Linked DNA regions of Homo sapiens. The protein of the gene in region 7 purifies or fractionates together with the protein of the main gene of each other region. This does not show direct contact. Each region holds a gene or a part of one and is shown on either strand. Other genes may lie near its edges. The genes, in order: COX15, PLXNB2, ATP8A1, ADCY3, AGPAT2, CA2 and SLC37A2.

Evidence for each region.
Region 1: the proteins of SLC37A2 (region 7) and COX15 purify together in Homo sapiens (affinity purification with mass spectrometry; one large-scale study listed by BioGRID and IntAct). This does not show direct contact.
Region 2: the proteins of SLC37A2 (region 7) and PLXNB2 purify together in Homo sapiens (affinity purification with mass spectrometry; one large-scale study listed by BioGRID and IntAct). This does not show direct contact.
Region 3: the proteins of SLC37A2 (region 7) and ATP8A1 purify together in Homo sapiens (affinity purification with mass spectrometry; one large-scale study listed by BioGRID and IntAct). This does not show direct contact.
Region 4: the proteins of SLC37A2 (region 7) and ADCY3 purify together in Homo sapiens (affinity purification with mass spectrometry; one large-scale study listed by BioGRID and IntAct). This does not show direct contact.
Region 5: the proteins of SLC37A2 (region 7) and AGPAT2 purify together in Homo sapiens (affinity purification with mass spectrometry; one large-scale study listed by BioGRID and IntAct). This does not show direct contact.
Region 6: the proteins of SLC37A2 (region 7) and CA2 purify together in Homo sapiens (affinity purification with mass spectrometry; one large-scale study listed by BioGRID and IntAct). This does not show direct contact.

The regions. Positions count from the first base shown.
Region 1 is NC_000010.11:99,712,748-99,715,127, forward strand, and holds part of COX15 (heme A synthase COX15), read right to left. Parts: intron 1,972-2,380; coding exon 1,840-1,971; 3' UTR 1,218-1,839; coding exon of another isoform or gene 1,059-1,217; 3' UTR 733-1,058; coding exon of another isoform or gene 667-732; 3' UTR 1-666. UniProt on the Homo sapiens protein: Catalyzes the second reaction in the biosynthesis of heme A, a prosthetic group of mitochondrial cytochrome c oxidase (CcO). Heme A is synthesized from heme B by two sequential enzymatic reactions catalyzed by heme O synthase (HOS) and heme A synthase (HAS).
Region 2 is NC_000022.11:50,280,147-50,283,646, reverse strand, and holds part of PLXNB2 (plexin-B2 isoform 3 precursor), read left to right. Parts: coding exon 1-45; intron 46-201; coding exon 202-310; intron 311-460; coding exon 461-597; coding exon of another isoform or gene 598-643; intron 644-765; coding exon 766-936; intron 937-1,096; coding exon of another isoform or gene 1,097-1,333; coding exon 1,334-1,463; intron 1,464-1,565; coding exon 1,566-1,793; intron 1,794-1,904; coding exon 1,905-2,081; intron 2,082-2,147; coding exon 2,148-2,287; intron 2,288-2,457; coding exon 2,458-2,558; intron 2,559-2,673; coding exon 2,674-2,903; intron 2,904-2,976; coding exon 2,977-3,158; intron 3,159-3,500.
Region 3 is NC_000004.12:42,409,106-42,412,605, reverse strand, and holds part of ATP8A1 (phospholipid-transporting ATPase IA), read left to right. Parts: 3' UTR 1-3,500. UniProt on the Homo sapiens protein: Catalytic component of a P4-ATPase flippase complex which catalyzes the hydrolysis of ATP coupled to the transport of aminophospholipids from the outer to the inner leaflet of various membranes and ensures the maintenance of asymmetric distribution of phospholipids.
Region 4 is NC_000002.12:24,822,738-24,826,237, forward strand, and holds part of ADCY3 (adenylate cyclase type 3), read right to left. Parts: intron 3,393-3,500; coding exon of another isoform or gene 3,390-3,392; coding exon 3,308-3,389; intron 1,800-3,307; coding exon 1,641-1,799; intron 619-1,640; coding exon 472-618; intron 1-471.
Region 5 is NC_000009.12:136,675,051-136,677,457, reverse strand, and holds part of AGPAT2 (1-acyl-sn-glycerol-3-phosphate acyltransferase beta), read left to right. Parts: coding exon 1-35; intron 36-321; coding exon 322-497; intron 498-777; coding exon 778-873; intron 874-2,407. UniProt on the Homo sapiens protein: Converts 1-acyl-sn-glycerol-3-phosphate (lysophosphatidic acid or LPA) into 1,2-diacyl-sn-glycerol-3-phosphate (phosphatidic acid or PA) by incorporating an acyl moiety at the sn-2 position of the glycerol backbone.
Region 6 is NC_000008.11:85,474,007-85,477,506, forward strand, and holds part of CA2 (carbonic anhydrase 2), read left to right. Parts: intron 1-317; coding exon 318-410; intron 411-1,791; coding exon 1,792-1,854; intron 1,855-3,113; coding exon 3,114-3,269; intron 3,270-3,500. UniProt on the Homo sapiens protein: Catalyzes the reversible hydration of carbon dioxide. Can also hydrate cyanamide to urea. Stimulates the chloride-bicarbonate exchange activity of SLC26A6. Essential for bone resorption and osteoclast differentiation.
Region 7 is NC_000011.10:125,080,305-125,083,804, forward strand, and holds part of SLC37A2 (glucose-6-phosphate exchanger SLC37A2), read left to right. Parts: intron 1-309; coding exon 310-476; intron 477-1,116; coding exon 1,117-1,154; intron 1,155-1,449; coding exon 1,450-1,602; intron 1,603-1,939; coding exon 1,940-2,030; intron 2,031-3,500. UniProt on the Homo sapiens protein: Inorganic phosphate and glucose-6-phosphate antiporter. May transport cytoplasmic glucose-6-phosphate into the lumen of the endoplasmic reticulum and translocate inorganic phosphate into the opposite direction. Independent of a lumenal glucose-6-phosphatase.

The DNA.
Region 1 (2,380 bases), on a different chromosome or scaffold from region 7:
TCTCCATCAGCCTGACCCCAGTGAGCATTTGATTTGGTCTACCCTACTCTTGCCTTCTACAGAACTAAAACTAACTTCCTGCAACTTTCATCCATTGCTGCCAGCTCTGCAGCATAATGGAAGCTCATTCCCTCTTCTGCATGAGACGGCTTCAACTTCTCAAGGACAGGAATCTTGCTCTCTCTCCAGATGTTCTCTGCTCCAGTTAAATATCCCTAGTTCCTTCACCTATTCCCTGTGTGACAGGGGTTCTGGACTCATCATTCTGATCTCTTCTTCTGGATACACACTTAGTGGCCATCAATATCTTGCTTAAATTTGGTACCCAGAGTGAAATGCAGTATGTTAGGGGTATTTTGACTATGGCTGTGACACTTCTACTGATAAAACCTGAAGTACCACTAATTTTTCTGTTATCATATAATAACAACATGAATACTACTTGGTTCATATTGAACCTGAGGACAACTAAAATCCCGTCTTTTTTATATGAAATGATATAAGGCCAGGTTTCTTCAGCCCAAACTTATACAACTTATTTAATTTAAATGAGTATGTTACATTTCTAATCTGTTTAATTTCATCTCGATGGGGTCATTCTGGGACTGTTTTCAGTTGCCACTGTCATCTATTATATTAGCAATATTGGGTTGCTCCATCCTCAAATCAGATGTTTCTGATGCCTTCATCCAAATCACTGATTTTAAAAGTAAAGTTGAATAAGACAGGGCCCTATGAAATATCAATAGAGACCAAAATCACATTAATTCAGCAGTCAACAATTTGTTTATCTGGGTAGATGTCCATGCACTACACCATCAAGGCCATATTTTTCTTATTACAAAGCTGTTAGGAAACCCTCTCAGGAACCAATTTATACTGTCGATTCCATTCCTCTCTCTGACCTTGTAATGTTAACAGCCTTATCAAAAGAGGAACTAGCTGGGCGTGGTGGCCCATGCCTGTAATCTCAGCACTTTGGGAAGCCGAGATGGGCGGATTACCTGAGGTCAGGAGTTCAAGACCAGCCCGGCCAATGTGGTGAAACCCCTTCTCTACTAAAAATACAAAATTAGCCAGGCATGGTGACTTGTGCCTGTAGTCCCAGCTACTCGGGAGGCTGAGGCATGAGAATCGCTTGAACCTGGGAAGTGGAGGTTGCAGAGTGAGCTGAGATCACGCCATTGTACTCCAGCCTGGGCAACAAGAGTGAAACTCTGTCTCAAAAAAAAAAAAAAAAATGGAACTATTTGGCGATTACCTCCTTTTCCAAGTACTTAAAAACCATTTTGCTACATATACACATTAAGCTTGTCAAAATCTGCAATTTCCCCATTTCTGAAAATCAGGATATTAGAAGACATTAGCTTTTTTTTTTTTGCTGAAGACCAGCTGGCTACTTTGGGTATGTCAATCCTATCCTTTCAATCTTCACCTAATGGAAGTGAAGTTAAGATCATAAAGAAATTCTATTTAGGCAGAATTAAGGACTCAGGAGAACATCCACGTAGAAATCATCCACGTAGAACCAAGAGCTTGCCAACACTGAAAAACCTGACACAAAGCCTGTTAAGCAGCAAATGGCAGACATTTCTTTCTCTACATTAAAACTGATTTTCAACATGAAAAGCAGATTTAAAAGGGAACATTTAGGGTAACCACACTTAATGCATTCTTGATCCAGTGACTATCTCAAAACAGGAAAAGATTTTTAAGTAAGTTGACCATTTGGAAACCACTTGGTATGTCAAGGTCATCTCGTAGAAAAGCCCAAGTTCTTATGATCTCTGAAGAGCTCTCAAAAGCAGTCACAGTCCCAGGAGGCTGGTCCTCTAAGAATCATTTTGGGACTCTTCGGAGTTCATTCATCAGCCAAAGAGCACCAGTGAGCAAAGCCAAGGAGCCTGACTGGTGAGTGGCGGCCAGAGGAGTTGGGACATACATCAGCAGCGTGCTGATGCCCAAGCCCACCTGTCACAAAGGAAAGAAGGCAATAGGAAAGGCAGTAACCCAAAGTTCACATTGAAAATGGCCAGGCGTGGATAACCACACACAAACCTCCACATCCTCCTATCAGAGCACTTAAAATACACACATTTTTAATTTCACAAGCAAATATGCTTACAATGAAAGAAATTCGAACAAAATTGATAAACCTAAAATTCCCCTTATTCTTCAATCCATCCCAGTTCCCCAGAGTAGTCACTGTTACCAGTTTCTGCATACTTGTACTTTAGTATGTTTATAGAGAAATAAATATATAGTTTTGTGCTTTTAAAAAACATATTGTTCTGTCACTTGCTTTTTTTCACTTAGCAATATACACTATGTATTGAGATCTTATTAAACTGCTGTGCAGTATCGCACAGTATGGATATAC
Region 2 (3,500 bases), on a different chromosome or scaffold from region 7:
CCGGAACTGCTCCTTTCAGCCGGAACGTTACTCCGTGTCCACCCGGTGAGTGGACGGCCCTGGTCTGGGCCCTGTCAGCTGGGTCAGTACCCACGCTGGGGTTCCGGGTGACTGGGTGGGTGGGGAGGCTGAGGGGGTGAGGGTGTCAGGGTGTGGGGTGGGTCGGGGAGTGCCTGGGCCACACTGCCTGTCGCCCGCCAGGATCGTGTGTGTGATCGAGGCTGCGGAGACGCCTTTCACGGGGGGTGTCGAGGTGGACGTCTTCGGGAAACTGGGCCGTTCGCCTCCCAATGTCCAGTTCACCTTCCAAGTAAGCACCCGGCCTCGGGGACCTGCCGAACCCGGGAGGACCGGGAGGAGGGGCTCTGCCCGCCGCCTCCCCACGACAGTTACCATCCAGCCCAGGACCGAGGGCGTCCTGTGCCCCGTCCTCACCCGAGTGCCCCTGCGGCTCTTTCAGCAGCCCAAGCCTCTCAGTGTGGAGCCGCAGCAGGGACCGCAGGCGGGCGGCACCACACTGACCATCCACGGCACCCACCTGGACACGGGCTCCCAGGAGGACGTGCGGGTGACCCTCAACGGCGTCCCGTGTAAAGTGTGGGTGTCACCGCCAGCTGCTGAGTCTGGTTGGCCCTGGCCCTGGGTATGGAGGGGGGCACTTACTGAGACCTGAGTGGCCCTGAGGGGATGGCGGGGCCAGCCTGGTCGGGCTGGGGCTGGTCCCGGGGGAGGGGTTGATGCAGACCAGCACCCTCCCTCCCCCAGGACGAAGTTTGGGGCGCAGCTCCAGTGTGTCACTGGCCCCCAGGCGACACGGGGCCAGATGCTTCTGGAGGTCTCCTACGGGGGGTCCCCCGTGCCCAACCCCGGCATCTTCTTCACCTACCGCGAAAACCCCGTACTGCGAGCCTTCGAGCCGCTACGAAGCTTTGCCAGGTGAGGCTGGTGTCCCCCCGCCCCCCTCTGCTCCCCACACCCAGCTGCCTCCTCAGTGCCCTTGGCTGACTGTGCTGAAAGGAATGTGGTGGGGCTGGTCTGTGCAGCGGGAGGCGGCCTCCGGAAAACCCCACTGCACTCCAGATCCACTTCCTCCTAGAAACCCAGATGGGCACACCAGAGGCTCCACGCTCACCAGGCCCCGTGTGCCCCCCGCCCACTTGCGGCACAGTCTCGTGCTCAGCACGTCCCACCGCGTTGCCCCTTTGCCCACCGAGACCCACACATGCACCTGGAAGCCCCGTGTGGTCAGGGCCAGGGTGGGCGGGGACGGGAGGGCGGAGGCTGCAGGGACCACCCCTGCCAGCCGAGCCCACGAAGGCACTGCCCTCCGCAGTGGTGGCCGCAGCATCAACGTCACGGGTCAGGGCTTCAGCCTGATCCAGAGGTTTGCCATGGTGGTCATCGCGGAGCCCCTGCAGTCCTGGCAGCCGCCGCGGGAGGCTGAATCCCTGCAGCCCATGACGGTCAGTCCTGGCGTGGGCTCAGCTCTGGCACCGGCCCATGGGATCGTGCCCAGGAAGGGCGGGGTCTGCGCCCGGGGGCTGACAGCTGGGACTTGCCTGCAGGTGGTGGGTACAGACTACGTGTTCCACAATGACACCAAGGTCGTCTTCCTGTCCCCGGCTGTGCCTGAGGAGCCAGAGGCCTACAACCTCACGGTGCTGATCGAGATGGACGGGCACCGTGCCCTGCTCAGAACAGAGGCCGGGGCCTTCGAGTACGTGCCTGACCCCACCTTTGAGAACTTCACAGGTGGCGTCAAGAAGCAGGTCAACAAGCTCATCCACGCCCGGGTGAGGACGGTGCAGCCCCGGGTGTCTGGGTCCTGCTCGGGTCTGGGCTGAGAGCTGGTCCACCTGTCCCTGGTTCCCTCCTCCTCACCCCGACCACTGCCGCCTCCCCAGGGCACCAATCTGAACAAGGCGATGACGCTGCAGGAGGCCGAGGCCTTCGTGGGTGCCGAGCGCTGCACCATGAAGACGCTGACGGAGACCGACCTGTACTGTGAGCCCCCGGAGGTGCAGCCCCCGCCCAAGCGGCGGCAGAAACGAGACACCACACACAACCTGCCCGAGTTCATTGTGCGTGAGCGGGGACTGGCGGGGGGTGCCCCCACGGGACCGCGCTGAACCCGGCCCCCCACACAGGTGAAGTTCGGCTCTCGCGAGTGGGTGCTGGGCCGCGTGGAGTACGACACACGGGTGAGCGACGTGCCGCTCAGCCTCATCTTGCCGCTGGTCATCGTGCCCATGGTGGTCGTCATCGCGGTGTCTGTCTACTGCTACTGGTGAGCCCGCCCCCCGGCTGTGCCAACACCCTGAGCCCTCGGCCCTCCCGCCTCGGCCCCTCTGGCCTCATCCGCCGCCCTGCACAGGCAGGCGTGTAGATCCACCTCCTCATCCGGGCAGCTGAGCGGCCAGCCCCGGCAGAACCTAGGAGGCCCGCTGTGCCTTGCAGGAGGAAGAGCCAGCAGGCCGAACGAGAGTATGAGAAGATCAAGTCCCAGCTGGAGGGCCTGGAGGAGAGCGTGCGGGACCGCTGCAAGAAGGAATTCACAGGTAGGGACCGCTTGGGGGCTGGTGCTGGGGCGCCTCCTGGGGCGGGGATGCTGTGTGTAGCGTGGGGGTCAGGGCCCCACGTGGCCAGGGACGTCTCACGCCAGCCTCCCCCCAGACCTGATGATCGAGATGGAGGACCAGACCAACGACGTGCACGAGGCCGGCATCCCCGTGCTGGACTACAAGACCTACACCGACCGCGTCTTCTTCCTGCCCTCCAAGGACGGCGACAAGGACGTGATGATCACCGGCAAGCTGGACATCCCTGAGCCGCGGCGGCCGGTGGTGGAGCAGGCCCTCTACCAGTTCTCCAACCTGCTGAACAGCAAGTCTTTCCTCATCAATGTGAGCCAGGCGTCGGGCGGGCGGGAGGGCACACAGGTGGCGCCGGGCAGGCTTTGACCGCCGGCCCCTACAGTTCATCCACACCCTGGAGAACCAGCGGGAGTTCTCGGCCCGCGCCAAGGTCTACTTCGCGTCCCTGCTGACGGTGGCGCTGCACGGGAAACTGGAGTACTACACGGACATCATGCACACGCTCTTCCTGGAGCTCCTGGAGCAGTACGTGGTGGCCAAGAACCCCAAGCTGATGCTGCGCAGGTGCACATGGGCGGGGCCACGAGCGGGGCCACGGGCGGGGCGGCCGCAGGGGCTCTGGGGCTGGTGGCGGGTGGCACAGCGGCCTGTTGGGCCCCCAGGAGCCGGCAGGTGCCAGCCAGCGCTGGTGGTGGGGGGCGGTCTAGGGGTGGTGTCCCCGGCCACAAACTCAAAGCCGGACTCTAGCCCTTCCTGTCCAGCGGTTTCAGCTGGTCACAGTGTCAGCCCTCTGCAGAACAGAAGGAAGGTGGCACACTTCCCACAAGGGCTGGAGCTGCCACCAGGTAGTCCTCGCTGCAGGCCACACCCAGGCTGGACAGGGGCGAGGCTGGCGCAAGGGTGGCC
Region 3 (3,500 bases), on a different chromosome or scaffold from region 7:
TGTGGGGCTGTAACTGACTGTCAGTTTATTGGCTGTACCACAAGGTAACCAACCATTAAAAAACTCTAAATGATATTTAGTTAAAGGGACTCTTGGTATCCAGACTTAGATTTCAGGATATGCTGAAACAAACCAGCATTCTTAAGGAACTGACTCACCTTCCTGAGCAAAATTTCTAAACAAGCATTTGTGTCCAAAATTGTCTTGATAAATGTTTGCCAAAGAGGTTCAGTAAGTGTTTTTCTAGTTCAGTAGTCATATGCCCAGAAATGTAAGAGAAAGTTTACTTCCAGTTCCGCTGTAAGATCTGCATGCCTGACTTTCCAAATGTAAGAGTGATTTACAAAAATGAATATTTCAAGGCATTTGCTACTAAAATCGGTGATGTTGCACCTTTGGCCTTACAAATGCTTCTTTGTTGTTTGTCGTGTTTATTTGTTAGAGGACACACGTGTTAATGTGACTCTGTTGTTATGACACTGATTTTTCAAACTATGTATGTTTCAGGTATTTCTGATGAAGTTTCATCATCATTTAGATTTTTCTAAAAATCTGGCTAATGCAGTAGATTGAGTGATGTCATTTTGTCTTAAAGTTTTTCCTCTTAAGAAACATATGCTACGTATTTACGTGGGATTTCCAAAGCTTCTGTTGCAATATTTGGAATAACATGTCAGATAAATGCATGGGCTTTTGTCCTGTGTTCCAGTTCCCACTAGAGATGCCTGTGTCTTGTGTAGCACACCCAGTGTTATGGTGACTGCCCCCTATACTGAAGACTGAAAATTATTTCACAGTTCACTCATCAAATAGTTCCCAAAATTCGTCACATGCTGCTTATTGGGACAAATAGGTAGTACATTTTCCCCATTTAAAAAATGCGGATTTTACTCAGGCCGGTAACTTTACAGTCAGAGGACACGTTCATCATGAGTAGCTTTTGTTAGTATGTTTTAAAATGTATCTTCAGTTCAATTATTTTCAGCATTTACAAGACATCTGAAAATGGCTATTTTGCTACCAACAGTAAATGAAGGGGCTGTTTAAAAACCACAACCAGTTTTCTACACTATTTTTTAAATAATACTTTCATTTGAAAAAAAGGAATTAGTTTTCAGATACACTTCAGAGATTGAAGCAAACTATTTGCCTTTTACTCAAAAGCCTGCTTGCCTTTACATGGACTTACCAGCAAAATAGGTAGAACTTTCTCTTTTAAAAAAAGTCAACTAGAATTGAGAAGAGGTGATTTTTTTTCAGATCGCTTCTCGAGTTTAATATTTTCACATTCTTTTCACCCTTTTTCTCAATCTAGATTTAAAATTAGGATATATGTCATTTCCTTGTCTGTATTTGTAGCTCCTTAGTTACCAGTATGCCTCTCCATTTTCTACAAATAAGAGGTTATAACACATATACATAATTCTAACCTTAAGGGAACACACGTTTACATACTTTACTTCCCAAGCCCTTCCTGTTTGGGGTACAGATTGAGAGAGTCATGAATCAACACATCTAGCAAGACCACAGGTGTAAGAGTCTAAGATCGTCTTCAAAATTCTGAAGTCCCAGTCTTTACCTGTCCAGTGAATGAATATTCAGAGCAGCTTTTCCTGGGCTTCCCAGTGGTGATAGCTGAGGTCAAACCACAAAAAATAAGAAAGCAAGAGTGAAATGCACCCCTCCAGAGAAACACTTTGTAGTGTTTAATTCTGTTAATAGAGAAGAGCTGCTTCTGTTTGCGCTCACTTCATCAGTGGCACCCTTCTGCAGAATTTTAATATAAAAACATTATGGATATAATAGAACTGGATTTTCTGACTTAAAAATGTAAGTTTTATTTTAATCTTGAAACGTGGATTGTTTCTGTGGAGCTCTTAAACATGAGAAGAATACTTACGGTTGATAATGTGTAACATGATCTGAAATGTGACTAATTTGAGCCTCTTTGTCCCATCGTCCTGTTTTTGAATTATTGACATTGTCAGTCTCTTTGCTTCCTGGGTGAGACTTGGGGTTTGAGGGACAGGGAATGACCTTCTTGGTGAAACTTAAAATATAACATTGCAATTGCAGTGACTTTACAGTGTTAAATTAGAGAAAATAGTCTGATTTTTTAAACCTTCCTTAACTGGAAAAAAGTCACATGGTTTTACCAGGATTGAAATAAACAGTCAATGTGACTTTTAACATGTGTTTTTTTGAAATAAAGGGCACGTACTCTTCAATTAAAAAGTTCCTTATAGGGACTCTGGCAAATGCTAACACAGTTGCTTTACAATGTTTACAATTCAGACAATACGACTTATAATAGAAAATCCTCATTCATTTAGCATTGAAAAGCTGGAAGTTGCTTCTTTAATGTTGAATAGTATACAGTGGTATTGAGCATGGACTTTCTAAATGTTTTATATATACATATAAAAATATATTGGTGTCTCACACCCAGAAAGATGTTATATTGTAGATATTATTAGGAAAACAGTGTTTCTCAGGAACGTTGTAAATTTTAAATGATATATGTACTTCCCGTCCTCCCACCTCCACTCTGTGCTCTAATGTGAGACTGCTTCAGCAGTGTTGCTAAGTTAATGGAAAACTTTTTCTAATCAAGTCAGGTGAATGTGTATTCTGCTAAATAATGTTAGCCATTTACATGAATTGTATGGTCATTAAATGGAATCAGTGATTCCTCTTTAATTTCCAGAGGGGAAATGAATTATGGAAATCAGTCAGCATTCTGATCATTAAATTTTATACTTTAATTTTGCCGTTCAGCATTCTAAATATCCAATGTGAAAGTCACATGATAATTTGTTTTGCATTGCGTGCACTGTACAACACTTACAACTTGTCATTTAAAATGTTTTCTCGGGAAATGAATGCTAGTCAGAAAGTAATAGATTGTATTATTCATAGTTTTAAAATTATGACAATGTCATAATTACTACAAAGCTAAATAATCGTGTTTATTTTTGTGCAGTTGCCCTTTGATAGTTCCTGGTTTTAAAACCTATTAAGTGTATAATCTTACAAATAGTCATCTACAAAATTTATGGAGAAAGTGCCCAGCCCATTCACATCACATGGACCAGGAATTCTTTTGTAAATGACTTAAGGTAACATCATGCAGTTCAGTGCCTAATAAATGCTTTTTAATGATGAACATTTCTATAATGACTCGTAAGATACCATAGTCTGATTTTTCTCACATTAAAATAACTGAAGTCACTTGTGTAACGTAGTTATACTTTGCTGCATTTTAATTAACCTTCAACAGCTATTAAAGTGGAATGTAAGTTAAATTTTGAAGGAAAGGAAATAAATGTTTTCCATATTTCGTCTTGATTTACTTTCTGTATGAGAACAGCTGTGTTTTTGATAGGTTTATGGTTTGCATGAGTTCATATTTAAAGTGATCCAGGCCAATGCATGGCTATTGCTGTAAATCTTGATGTTTATTTCTGCCTTGTAAAGTTCTATCACGGCCTACCTGGAAT
Region 4 (3,500 bases), on a different chromosome or scaffold from region 7:
CTTTCCTATCAAAGTTGTTACTTAGTCTACCGCTTATCTGCCACATGATCCTGGGAGAACTTCCTAACTTTCTGGGCCTGTTTCCACAACCTCAACACTGACATAAAATCGGCAGTCTCCTAGGGGGGCTCCGCGCGTGTGTAAAAGCATTCTCCCTGGTATACAGGTCACCCAGTCAATGCTGACCGGCTCTGAATTTGAGGAGACAGTCCCAGGACAGAGAGGTCTCGAGATGTTGCTTGGCCAGTCCTTATCCTTATCCTGTGACCCTGTGGGTGATTTCCCGGGCTCCCACCTCACCTCCCCTTCCCCAGCCCAGCAGTTCCAGGTGGCTGCAGAAGTCCATGTATTGCGGAAGGGGCTTATCTGGGAAAATGAAGCCAGTTTCTCTGGCCTCTGCAGCCTATTGTAGGATGTGATGTGGAATGGGCCGGCTTCATGGCCAGAGTGCAGGGTGGGATGGGCACTCACAGAGTCAAAATCTGAGATGATTTCATTGAGGAAACGCAGACACTCAATACCACCATTGTTGATGCTCTCCTCTGTGTAGAAGTCAGCAAAGTTGGGCAGGGAGGCAAACATGACTCCAATCTCATCATACGTCTGGCTATACAGCTCCTAAAAAGAGGTGCGGACAACGTGCTCAAAGCATGTCCGACTGACTGGATGATGTGTTGGAGAAATGCATCTATCTTCCATGCATGACATGTGCACTCAGCTTTTTGGACTCACACATCAGTCAGATTATTCCAGCATTTTTTTTTTTTTTTTTAAGAGTGGGTCTTGCTGTGTTTCCCAGGCTGGAGTGCAGTGGCAGTAAACAAGCACAATTAGGTATGATCGAAGCACACTGCGGCCTTGAACACCAGGTATCTGGGACCACAGACACATGTCACCATGCCCGGCTGTAGATTATTCCAACTCTGAATAATTTAAAAATAGCTCATCGCTACTTTTTTTTTTTTTTTTTGAGAGATGGAGTCTTGCTGTGTCACCCAGGCTGGAGTTGAGTGGCACAATCTCAGCTCACTGCAACCTCCACCTCCCGGGTTCAAGTGAGTCTCCTGTCTCAGTTTCCCGAGTAGCTGGGACGACAGGTGTGCACCACCGCGTCCAGTTAATTTTTGTATTTTTTAGTAGAGACAGGGTTTCACTATTTGTTGCCCAGGCTGGTCTCAAACTCCTGACCTCAGATGATCCACCCGCCTCGGCCTCCCAAAGTGCCGGGATTACAGGCATGAGCCACTGTGCCCGGCCACTACTTTGAATAAATTTTAAAACAGCTTCTCTAGTTCCTCTAACAGCCCCAGCTGTGAAGACGAGGGTACCGTAGAGCTGGGAACCACTCTGTTTGGAGAAGTTCACAGGCAACAGAAAGGTGGGCTCTAGCCAAAGTCTTGTCTTCTGACACATGGCCTCAGAGCTGTACGGCCCACATCACGATGCCTACAGCAGTGCACTTTATAAGAGGCCGGAGAAATTCCTCTTTTGCTTATTTGTGTTTGCTGTTTAGGTTCAGCCCTACCTAGGCCCCAGTCCCCTGTCCCTGAGAAGGCCTGGGCCCAGCGGGGGCTGCCTGAAAGAAAGAACAGATGGAGACAAATGGCCTCATGGTTCCGGGCTGAGACCACACCCCTCACCTCATCTCTCTTCTTGGACCCCAGGAAATGGCGTGCCACGTGCTCAGGCAACATGTTGGTGACCAAGGCCTCGTTCCAGCGTCGCATCTCATAGACACGTTCCTTCTGGTCGTGGACCTCAATCTTCCACAAGAAAAGTGTCCGTGCCAGTTTTTCTACCTACAGACACAGACAAGGCGAGGCATGTGCTCTAAGCTGGCCACTGGATAGAAGGATGAAAAACAGGAATGGCCAGGCGTGGCGGTTCATGCCTGTAATCCCAGCACTTTGGGAGGCCGAGGCAGGCGGATCACCTGAGGTCAGGAGTTCGAGACCAGCCTGACCAACATGGTGAAACCCTGTCTCTACTAAAAATACAAAAATTAGCCGGGCATGGTGGCGGGCACCTGTAATCCCAGCTACTCGGGAGGCTGAGGCAGGAGAATCAACTTGAACCCAGGAGGCAGAGGTTGCAGTGAGCCGAGATCGCACCACTGCACTCCAGCCTGGGCAAAAGAGTGAGACTCAGTCTCAAAAAAAGAAGAAAAACAGGAACGTGAATGGAGGAACTCCCCTTGGAAAGGCTGGAAGGAAGATGGCTAAATGGCAAGGGAAGTAAGACCCTGCAAAGATTGCACCTCATCAAAAGGCCACCCAATAGTGGTGCGGTTCCCAGCCTCCGTAATTACAGCAGAGATCCAGGAGGCCTTCCGTGTGTAGGGGGCCTCTTGGGACCTAATTTCAGCTGCAGGTCTGTCTCGTGGAGGTGGCAGCAGTGGGGATCTCCCAACTCAGGGTGGAGTCCCCCTTTCTAGCAGGCGCCATTTGGGTAAGAAGTGGCTTGGGAAGGCTGTACTTCCCTGGAAAGCCAGTAGGGGGCACTTGAACTAACATTGGGCCCTAAGTACAGAGGATCTTTCTCTTCCCTCTCTTCCTTCTCTTTTCCTTTTTTGTCCGGTTGAGTGCGGTGGTTGTGGCGGGGGGGGGGGGGGTGCGGGGGGGGTGTCTCACTTTGTCACCCAGGCTGGAGTGCAGTGGTGTGATCTCAGCTTACTACAGCCTCAACCTCCTAGATTCAAGCAATCCTCCTGCCTCAGCCTCTCAAGTAGCTGGGATTACAGGTGCGGGCCACCATGCCTGGCTAATTTTTGTATTTTTTAGTAGAGACAGGGTTTCACCATATTGCCCAGGCTGGTCTCAGACTCCTGGACTCAAGTGATCCTCCACCCTCAGCCTCCCAAAATGAGCCACTGCACCGGCCTTCTCTTTTCCTTTTAACCCAACAGAAAGTCCATCAGCTCCCTTCTCTTTCTCTTCTGGCTCTGTGGTCAGTTGTGTTAATGTCCCTCAGCGCCACGGGGAGTGCGGGGGCCATGAGCCCCTGGCCTAGGGGATATTGATTTGATTCAAGATGTTTGTGCCTTCACTCTATCCCCTCCCACCTTCACTCCCATGCTTCCTTCACCATCCTGGAGGGGGTCGGACGGAAGAGGTGAGGAACTGTCTTCCTGTGTGACTGAGGAAGGAGCCTGAATAGAGAAGGCGGTGGCCTGACCAGGCTCACGTGTGGGGCTGGGTGAAGGGAAGCCCCATTCCTTAGGAGCTTGGGCTCTTAGGTCCCAGGGCTGCTTCTCAGGAGGCCCTGTGGGCTGTGGGCACAGAGCGGGGATCGTGCAGGCGGCACTCACGTGGCGGGAGAAGTAGTAGAAGCTGAGCATCATGAGGAACACCATCACCGTCATAGAGTACTTGGAAGGCACCAGGGGCAGCCTGCTGGGCAGAGCGTGTGCAACTGAAAGGGCTGTCATCTGCCTCCTGGAGGGGGCCTGATTCCCTCCAACTAGATGGTGCTGCTTCCTGCCACCCCAGCCCTAGAGCTCA
Region 5 (2,407 bases), on a different chromosome or scaffold from region 7:
CGTCTCCAACCACCAGAGCATCCTGGACATGATGGGTAGGCCGGGCCTCGGGGGTGGCTTCTGGGGTTTGAGTGGGGCCGGCTGAGCTGGGGCTGTGTGGGGCTGGGTCCCGGGGACGAGGACACAGGGCTGCCTGTGCCTGGGCGAGCTCGGCCTCAGTACCTCCCTCAGGGCCAGACACAGAGGCTCGGAGGCCACACGACCCGTCCAGGTAGCCAGGGAGAAGGCAGGGTGCCAGGCAGGCCTGTGGGTGCTCAGCAGCTGTCTTCCAGCGCACGCTGTCTCCCCCTCTCTCTCTGTCTCTGTCTCTCTGTCTCCCAGGCCTCATGGAGGTCCTTCCGGAGCGCTGCGTGCAGATCGCCAAGCGGGAGCTGCTCTTCCTGGGGCCCGTGGGCCTCATCATGTACCTCGGGGGCGTCTTCTTCATCAACCGGCAGCGCTCTAGCACTGCCATGACAGTGATGGCCGACCTGGGCGAGCGCATGGTCAGGGAGAACGTGAGTGTGCAGGGCCGGGCTCGGTGGGGTTGGGGTGGGGCCTGGGCGGGGCCAGGCAGGGGCCAGCTTGTGACTTGGTTTTGGCAGAAAAAACAAGACCCCCACATCATCCATGCTCCGCAGGTGGGGTCCCACGCCAGACCCCTACATCATCCATGCTCCGCAGATGGGGTCCCATGCCAGCTGCTTTGCGAAGTGGGGCTTCTTAGGAGGCGAGGCGGCGTGGCCTTTCTGGGGTGGCCTGGGCGTGAGGTCAGTCCAGGCTCTCCTCTCCCTGCAGCTCAAAGTGTGGATCTATCCCGAGGGTACTCGCAACGACAATGGGGACCTGCTGCCTTTTAAGAAGGGCGCCTTCTACCTGGCAGTCCAGGCACAGGTAGGCTGAGCCCAGCCCTCCCTGGGTGGGTGCAGGCTGGGGAGGCGGGGTCAGGCTGGCTTAAGGCAGCAGGTGACCACCAGCCGAGCTGAGGACCCTTGACACACAAGGGACTCCTCCCACTGAGTTGGGGACAGGGCCTCCTTGCCCCTTCCTGCACTTGCCCCCTGACCGACCAGGGAGGGCAGCCCCTTGGGCCTTTTGCCCACACAGAGCCCAGAGTGACCAGCTGCCCTTGGTGGGCACCCAGTGCTTGGCCTGCGAGGCTGGGCAGGTAGAGGGGTGGGGAGCCGGGCCGCTCGCCTCTGCTGCAGAGCTCTCAGGAGGCTCATTTCTGGGCCTGTGCCTGGCTGGGGTGGGCTTCAGGGCATGGGCAGTGGGTCTGGACAAGCCAGGCTTTTGGTGTAGTATCAGGCCAGACCAGAGCTCAGGGTGGGTGGAGCTCATTGTAAGCAGCGCCTCCAGACTCTGGACTTCCTGGTCCCCAGCCTCCAGGGGTGCAGTGCATCCTAGGGTGTCTGGGAGAGGCCAGGGTATAGCCATTCCCCCAGCACCTGTCCTGCCTCTGCCGCTGTGCTGGGAAGAGTTGCGTCAGGAGAAGGAGCTTTTACCCATCTGGGTGGGGTCTCGCTCAGGGCAGGGGTCTCAGCTCCTTCCCTCACACTGGCCACTAGTGGCCCCCAGTGCCTGGCCCTGTGCAAGGTGGTGGGGAGGGGGCCCTCCTTCCAGAGGCTCCCAGCTAAGGCCGTGAGGCCTGGGGAGCCCCGGAGGCGCTGGGCTGGGTGAGCATCCTTGGGCTCTGATCCCAGCCCTGCCCAGGTGCGGGGCACACCTGCCCAGCCTGGGGCTGATGTCACTTCCCTTTGGGGGCAGAGTGAGGGCTGGATCAGCTCTGGGAGAGCAGAGGGGAGACGGGCGGCTGTGATGGGGTGGCTGGGGGTGGCCGCAGTGCAGCTTCAGCCAGGAGACCCACAGCTTTTCCGTCCCTGCTCCCGGTCCCCAGCCTACCTGCTGGCCCCCTCCCTCCCTGCTGCCAGTCCCCAGCCTACCTGCTGGCCCCCTCCCTCCCTGCTCCCAGTCCCCAGCCTACCTGCTGGCCTCCTCCCTCCCTGCTGCCAGTCCCCAGCCTACCTGCTGGCCTCCTCCCTTCCTGCTGCCAGTCCCCAGCCTACCTGCTGGCCCCCTCCCTCCCTGCTCCCAGTCCCCAGCCTACCTGCTGGCCCCCTCCCTTCCTGCTGCCAGTCCCCAGCCTACCTGCTGGCCCCCTGGAGGTTCCCTGGCTGCCTCGGGTTAATGATCACCCCCAAGTGCCCTTGGATTTGACCCCGGTGACTTCCAGGAACACCAGCAGGCTCCACCCCTCCCCCGGGCTAGGGCTGCCTCCCTCACTGGCTTCCTGAGATGGAGAGGACTGGGAGAGAGGCGTGGGCAGGGAAGAGTGCCATAATCTCCTCCTAAACCGGACAGGGCCCTGCCCCCCTGGCTAGCTGCAGACCCAATATGGGGACAGGTGTGAACCAGGCAAACACGTGCT
Region 6 (3,500 bases), on a different chromosome or scaffold from region 7:
TCCAACTCCACCATTTGCAAAAAGTAAACGGACTCAAACTGGAGGATCCTGTTTTAACAGAAATTTAGAAATAAAATGTGTGCCTTCTGTCAAAACTGTACATTTATTTGTCTTAGAGTTATTGATGAAAACACTTGCTGTTATACCAAGTACTGTGTGGATGATTAGAATTAAAATGAAAGGAAAATTTTGATTTAAAATTATCCATATTTTCAATTTCCTGAGTAACCTTTATTGTGAGAAAAAGACCATTGAATAAAATCTGTCAGCTTTGATTATGTAAATCACTCACTGTGGCTTTGTCTCTTCGGCCTTAGCTTCACTTGGTTCACTGGAACACCAAATATGGGGATTTTGGGAAAGCTGTGCAGCAACCTGATGGACTGGCCGTTCTAGGTATTTTTTTGAAGGTTAGTTGATGACCCAATTCTTTTTTTTCCCTATTTTTAATAAAGAATGACCAGACAGAGTATTTGTAACATACAGGACATTCTACAAAAGAGCTTAGGAAATGCCTTTGTCCCTGAAATGTTTTCAAGTTTATCTCCTCCTTTCATATCTGCTAGTTGCAGTGGAGATGGAGGGCAGAAAGACAATAGGAGAGGTACTTATTTGGTACCTTTTGGATGTAAATGTGAAGAACATAAAGAGATCAACTTGGGTGACTGCTAGGTGTTTGTTTGTTTTCTTTTCATTTAACCTGAGGCTAGACAGTACTATATTATGATAAAGTAAGATCAGGTTCTGAAGAGGGGAAGGACAGTGAATTTCAGGCAACAGTGGGACAGAACCGGTTGAGCTGCCCTCTAAACAGTGGTAAAGGGGAATGGAGAAAGGTCTGGGCTGGAGATTTATGAGCTCTGATTCATATGTTGAGGTGGAAGCTACAGGTGTGTATGAAATCATCCAAGTACAGCACGAAGAGGGAGATGAGAAATCTGCCCAGGGAGCAATCCTGAGAAACTGCAAAATGTAAGGCCTTTACAAGGGGAGAGATGCAAATTAAACAACTTAAAAGGGGCCAGGTGTGGTGGCTTAAGCCTGTAATCCCAGCACCTTGGGACACCAAGGCAGGAGGATAGTTTGAGGCCAGGAGCTCAAGACCAGCCTGGGCAACATAGCACAATTCCATCTCTACAAAATTTTTTTAAAAATTAGCTGGGCATAAAAAACAAACTAACAAACAAAAAAACAAAACAAAAACAAAAACACAAAATTAGCTGGGCATGGTGGTATACACCTGTAGTTTCAGCTACTTGGGAAGCCAGGGCAGGAAAATCACTGCAGCCTAGGGGTTGAGGTTGCAGTGAGCTATGATCATGCCACTGCACTACAAGCTGGATGACAGAGCAAGACTCTGACTCTAAAAAAAAAAAAAAAAAAAAAAAAAGCGAGAGTCAAGAGAGATTTGGGTTGCTGGAAGGCGTAGGGAAAGCCAAAGAAGAAAATAATTTTTAAAAAGAAGGGAAGACCATAGTGTAAAGTCCTACAAGGAAATCAAGGCAAGCCCTTGAGGAGTATCCTTTGGCAGTTAGAGGTCACTGGGGACAATTGAGCTGGTGGTTTCAGGACTACTCTCTGAGTGGAATTAGAGGCGAGTTGAAGATTCAGTGAAAGTAGGCAAGTCTATGGTGTCAGTGTCATCAAGCCAGTACTGATGGGGGTCATGTATGAAGTGGAGAATTTGGGCTCACTATTTGGATGTTTTCTAATAGAGCTACCCAAATAAAAATAAAAACTGGTACAGTACCAACTGGGTGATAGTATCTTGCCCTTTATGTTTTTCTTTAGGTTGGCAGCGCTAAACCGGGCCTTCAGAAAGTTGTTGATGTGCTGGATTCCATTAAAACAAAGGTAAATTTGAATTTTCTGCCACCTCCTTAGGGTACCAATTTTCAATACTCCATTGGTTTTAGAAATTTCTTTTGATCAAATTGCACAGTCTCAATGACATGTGGTGTTTGGATGAGCAGTTAGTAAAGGTAGAATATTACTTAAATATTTAATTAACGTTTCTTTCAACAAAGTTGATCCTAATGCTAGCATAATTCTAAGACTTGTATTTATTTAATCTTGCTCCCCCATCATTTGGACATCCATATGTAAGAGTCAGAGAATCTTATGCCTGCAAGGAGGTTCAAAGGTCCTCTAGTCAAATTATTCACTCATTCATACAGCAGATATTTGTTAAGTATGTACTATGTGCCAGTCGCTTTGCAAACTAGTAGACACAATGGTGAACAAGATAAACAAGGCCCTGTTTCATGGAGATTTCTATTCTATGACCTCTTTGCATTCATCCATCCTGCATTTAAATCCTCTCTGCAGCATAGTTGTGTTGAGGTCGTTGAGCATCTGTTTAAACACTACAGTCACTTCCGGTGATGGGGAACTTATCACCAGGGGCAGCCCTGGCTTTATAAAGCTGATCTTCACATTGAAGCAGCATCTATCCTCTGAAATGCTCACTCACTGGCTTGAGCCCCTTGAATTCATAGAATAAACCTGATCTCTCTTCCAAATAACTCTACTCTGTCTCTACTTTGTTTTTTCACCTACCCCAAACTAATTATCTTTAGTTTCCTTTAACTATTCTCATATGATATAGTTTTCTCTCTTTGCCACCACCTTGTCATTCTTCCAGTAAATCATTCCTGTTTGCTTGAAAAGTGTAGTGTCCAAAACAGAATGTAGTTATTTGATTCTGACCTAGAGCAAGAAAATCACCTCCTCATCAGGATACCATATTTCTGTTATTGCAACTTGAAGTCACCTCATTTTAGTGGCAGCAGTCTCACTTTAAATACTGGGTGTGATCAGCTAATGACTTAATGGGGAATGTAAGGGATCATTTTAGATAAAAGGCCAAGATGAAAAATGGACATGTGAAAATAGTTTTTTTTTTTTTTTACTACGACTTGCCACATATTTTCAAGTTGAATGTCTTCTGTTAATTTCTCTTTATTTTGTTTGCCAGTGAATATAGAACCTCTTTTTTAAAAAGTGTTTTTGACCATCAGAGGGGAGTATACCTATTTGTGTCTGCTGCTCTCCTACCTTCCTCCTACTCTGTCAATGTGATAGTTTGAAGCTGCGTATTTGCCTTGTTCTAGGGCAAGAGTGCTGACTTCACTAACTTCGATCCTCGTGGCCTCCTTCCTGAATCCTTGGATTACTGGACCTACCCAGGCTCACTGACCACCCCTCCTCTTCTGGAATGTGTGACCTGGATTGTGCTCAAGGAACCCATCAGCGTCAGCAGCGAGCAGGTTTGTTTTGTAATGACAGGTCTGTTTACGGGTGGAGCATTTAGTCAAGGCAGAAGACCTTGGCCTCCAGAGTGAGAGAGAACTGAGATTTAATCCTTCTCCTGCTACTTCTTGCTATGGAAATAGTGCCTTTGATGGTGCCTAGCAAATAAACAGCGTTCAGTAAATCTTTGTTGTTATTAACTATAAACTTAGTTCGTTTAGTCTCTAAAATTGAATAGTCATTGTAAG
Region 7 (3,500 bases):
GAGTGAGATCGTGGGACAGAAGAGAAGAACGAGGGCCGGGGCCCCCATGCCCTCAGTGTGGCTAGAGCTCCCATCGGCACTCACTCAGGGAGCTGGGCAGGCGGAGCGAGACCACAGGCCCTGCAGCCACCTGCTTGACACCATCCAAGGTCTCCCACTCCTTGCTGACTTGGGGCTTTGGGGCTGTCTTTGGTGCCTCGGGGAAGCTGTAGTCAGCCCAGCTTTAGAGCTTGGCTGGGGCAGTTGCTATGAACAATGTGCTTTGCTTTTTACTTTTTATACCTCTTCCCTTCTCTCCCTCCCTTCCAGGCGGGGGTTCATCATGGGCATCTGGAATTCCCACACATCTGTGGGCAACATCCTGGGCTCCCTGATCGCCGGCATCTGGGTGAACGGGCAGTGGGGCCTGTCGTTCATCGTGCCTGGCATCATTACTGCCGTCATGGGCGTCATCACCTTCCTCTTCCTCATCGAACGTGAGTGGGCCCCTCACTCCCCACAAGTGAGCCTAGAAGTTCTCGGTTTCTGGGAGAAGGCAGCTGGATCTACTGGAAAGATTGCTGGTCACAGAGTGGGAGGACCAGCCGTGTGACTTTGGACAATCTTTCAGAGCCTTTATTTTCTCATTTGTAAAATAATAATAGTAATAATAATGTCTATTTCGTAGGATTTCTGCAGGCTTAACTGAGACACCATAGTTAAAATGCCAGGCCCACAGGAGGTGCTTGGCAAGCATTGGTTGAATCTGAGAGGTGTGATCAGGGAGGGTGGAGTTGAAGGGACATTGTTACAGTGACCAGGCTCTCCACTTGCTGCAGGTGGTCTTGTGCACTAGCCAGGCCAGGTATGAGAGCCACTCTGTAGCTAAGAGTACTAAAGTCCAAGAGGCAGTAGTGACACTGCTGGTTGTTAGGAAAGCCAGGCCTAGAAAGCTGTCTCCTGAGCCCCAGGCCCCGCTCCCTCCTGCTGGGACACACACTGGCCACCTTAGGAGCTGGAGGCGGGGCTGGTTCCCGGGATGGCTTAGATCCAGTGCAAGGTGAGGGCCTGGCAATCACCTCGGGATTGGGGGGGCGGGGGTTGGGAAACTTCTTAGAAAGCGATTTTTTTTTCTAGACCCAGAAGATGTGGACTGCGCCCCTCCTCAGCACCACGTGAGTGTGAGCCCTCCCAGCCCTATCCCTGCCCTCCAACTCCATCCAGAGGGCTGGACCCGGAGAGGCCTGGGGAGCTAGAGCAGGGAGTTCTGGCCCTCACTGACCTCACCGACCCAGTGCTAGGCCCATGGGTTGGCCCTACAGCCTGATGAGTCTGGCAGGTCAGTCCAGCCCGAGACGAACGTGTGCCTCCCCATCCTGGGAGCCAGTGTCTCTTGCCTGGGCTGCACCTTCAGCTGGTGGGAGGCAGCACATGGACGCACCCACAGCAGGGCTCATCTCCTCTGCTCAGGGTGAGCCAGCTGAGAACCAGGACAACCCTGAGGACCCTGGGAACAGTCCCTGCTCTATCAGGGAGAGCGGCCTTGAGACTGTGGCCAAATGCTCCAAGGGGCCATGCGAAGAGCCTGCTGCCATCAGCTTCTTTGGGGCGCTCCGGATCCCAGTAAGAAGTTTGTGGAATGGAGGAAAGAGAGGGGCTTTCCAGATTTTTTCTGTTGGTGATGAGGAGATGGGGTGCTTGGGTGATCTATTTTTCTAGAACTTCTTTATAGGGGAGGTGTAAGTTGGGCAGCCTGCTTGGGGAGGGCAGTGTGGGAGATTTGTCTTGAAACAACCTTGCACAGTGGTCATGTTGCTTTTATTGGGACTGGATGTGTTGGAGGCTGCCTTGTGTGGCAGGTGATGGAAAGTACTGGGGTGGTGCTGAGCACCCCTTGGGGCCACCACTGAACCCAGGACCTCTGGACCCCTTCCCATGTGCCCCCTGTTGCACTCCCCAGGGCGTGGTCGAGTTCTCTCTGTGTCTGCTGTTTGCCAAGCTGGTCAGTTACACCTTCCTCTACTGGCTGCCCCTCTACATCGCCAATGTGGGTAAGTCCAAGAGAAGGGGAATGAAGGGGTCTCTGAGGAGGCCAAGGCTGCCTCTGGTGGGAGAGGAAGCCCGTCGTGGTGATGCCTGTGATTCCAGTATATAGGCAGAATTCCTGCTGAACCTCTCCTAGAGTGAAAGGAGCTTGATTTAGTTGTTTACTTAAATGAAAGCTAAACCCAGCAAACTACCCCCTAGACCCTGACTCCAGCCACCTTTTCTCCCCTTGGAACTGAGCTGGGGGTTAGGAACTCAGAGCTCTGTTCTGCAATTCTTGCTATCTTCTTCTCTAGCCCTTAGTGTAGGAGAAACCCCCTCCAGGCTGCTTGGCTCATAGGTGGTAGCATTGGAGGTGCTAGGGAAGGCCTGCCTGCTAGATCTCTCCCCCAGCCCAAGGAAGAGGGCCTGGTGAGTGACCCCACTCCTTGTAGCCTGGTGGTGACCCTGGTGGTCTTCTCCCCGTGGGACCTAATGTGATCGATGCCCCTGTGCCTGGATCTGCTGGGCTGCACTGGTGTTCTGTCCTGTCTCATGGACCTACTCCCGTCTGCTCCTGCCCAGGGATGTATAGATGAGAAGAGCTCATTTGAAAAAGGATGTTTCATGTCCACCTGGCCTGGGTCTCTGCTTTTCCATAGGTCAGGCTGCTCTACCAAACAGCAGCCCACCCCGCCCTGCCCAGCCCCCAGGAGCCTCCAAGCTCCACCAGGGCTGAGGGCCTGTCACCCAGTACTGCTGCCCTCCCTCCCAGCCCTGGGGAGGAACAACAGTGCCTTGCCACACATTGTGCTCGCTCTGAACAGGATACTGTAGGAATTAGTCATGGCCAAGTTCAAGCCATAGCTTGCCCCGCAGCTCTGTCGGGGCCTCTCTCGTGACAGTGTGGAGCACTAGGGCAGCTTTGTGGACACCGTGACTCTTTGTTTTGTGGCCTTGGTGCTGACTTCAGAGTATGAGGCACCCTCGAGGGTGGGGCTACAATCTCAGCTTCTGGACATTCCTTTTTTAAAACATGGAGCCAAGGCCTGTGACCTGAGGCCCCTGTGTCCCTGCAAGTCTCCTTCCTGGCTCTGTGTATGAGCACAGCCTAAGGTAAACGGGAAGAGTTCCTAGTGCTGCTAGGGCCGGAGTGAAGCAGAGAAAGGGCTGGGCTGAGCTTCAGGTTGCGCTCCAGGGGAAAGGTGGCCACGGGACAGCAGGCTCGGGGGCCAGATCCCAGAGCTTGCCAGGGAGGGCTTGTTCTGAGAGGTGAAGGTCATCCTGCAGGGGAAGAGGGCAACACAGGACGGGACCAAGAGGGCGTCTATCCAAACTGCTGCATTCTCACCCTGTGGCCCTGGCCAGCCTGCTCCACAGGTCCCCAGCTCTTCCTCGGAAAAGGGGGCAGTGGTCTGGATCACGCTCTGCAGGGCTTCTAGCTGTGACACTCCAGGATGTTTGCCCCAAACCCCAGGTCTGACCACATACCTGTA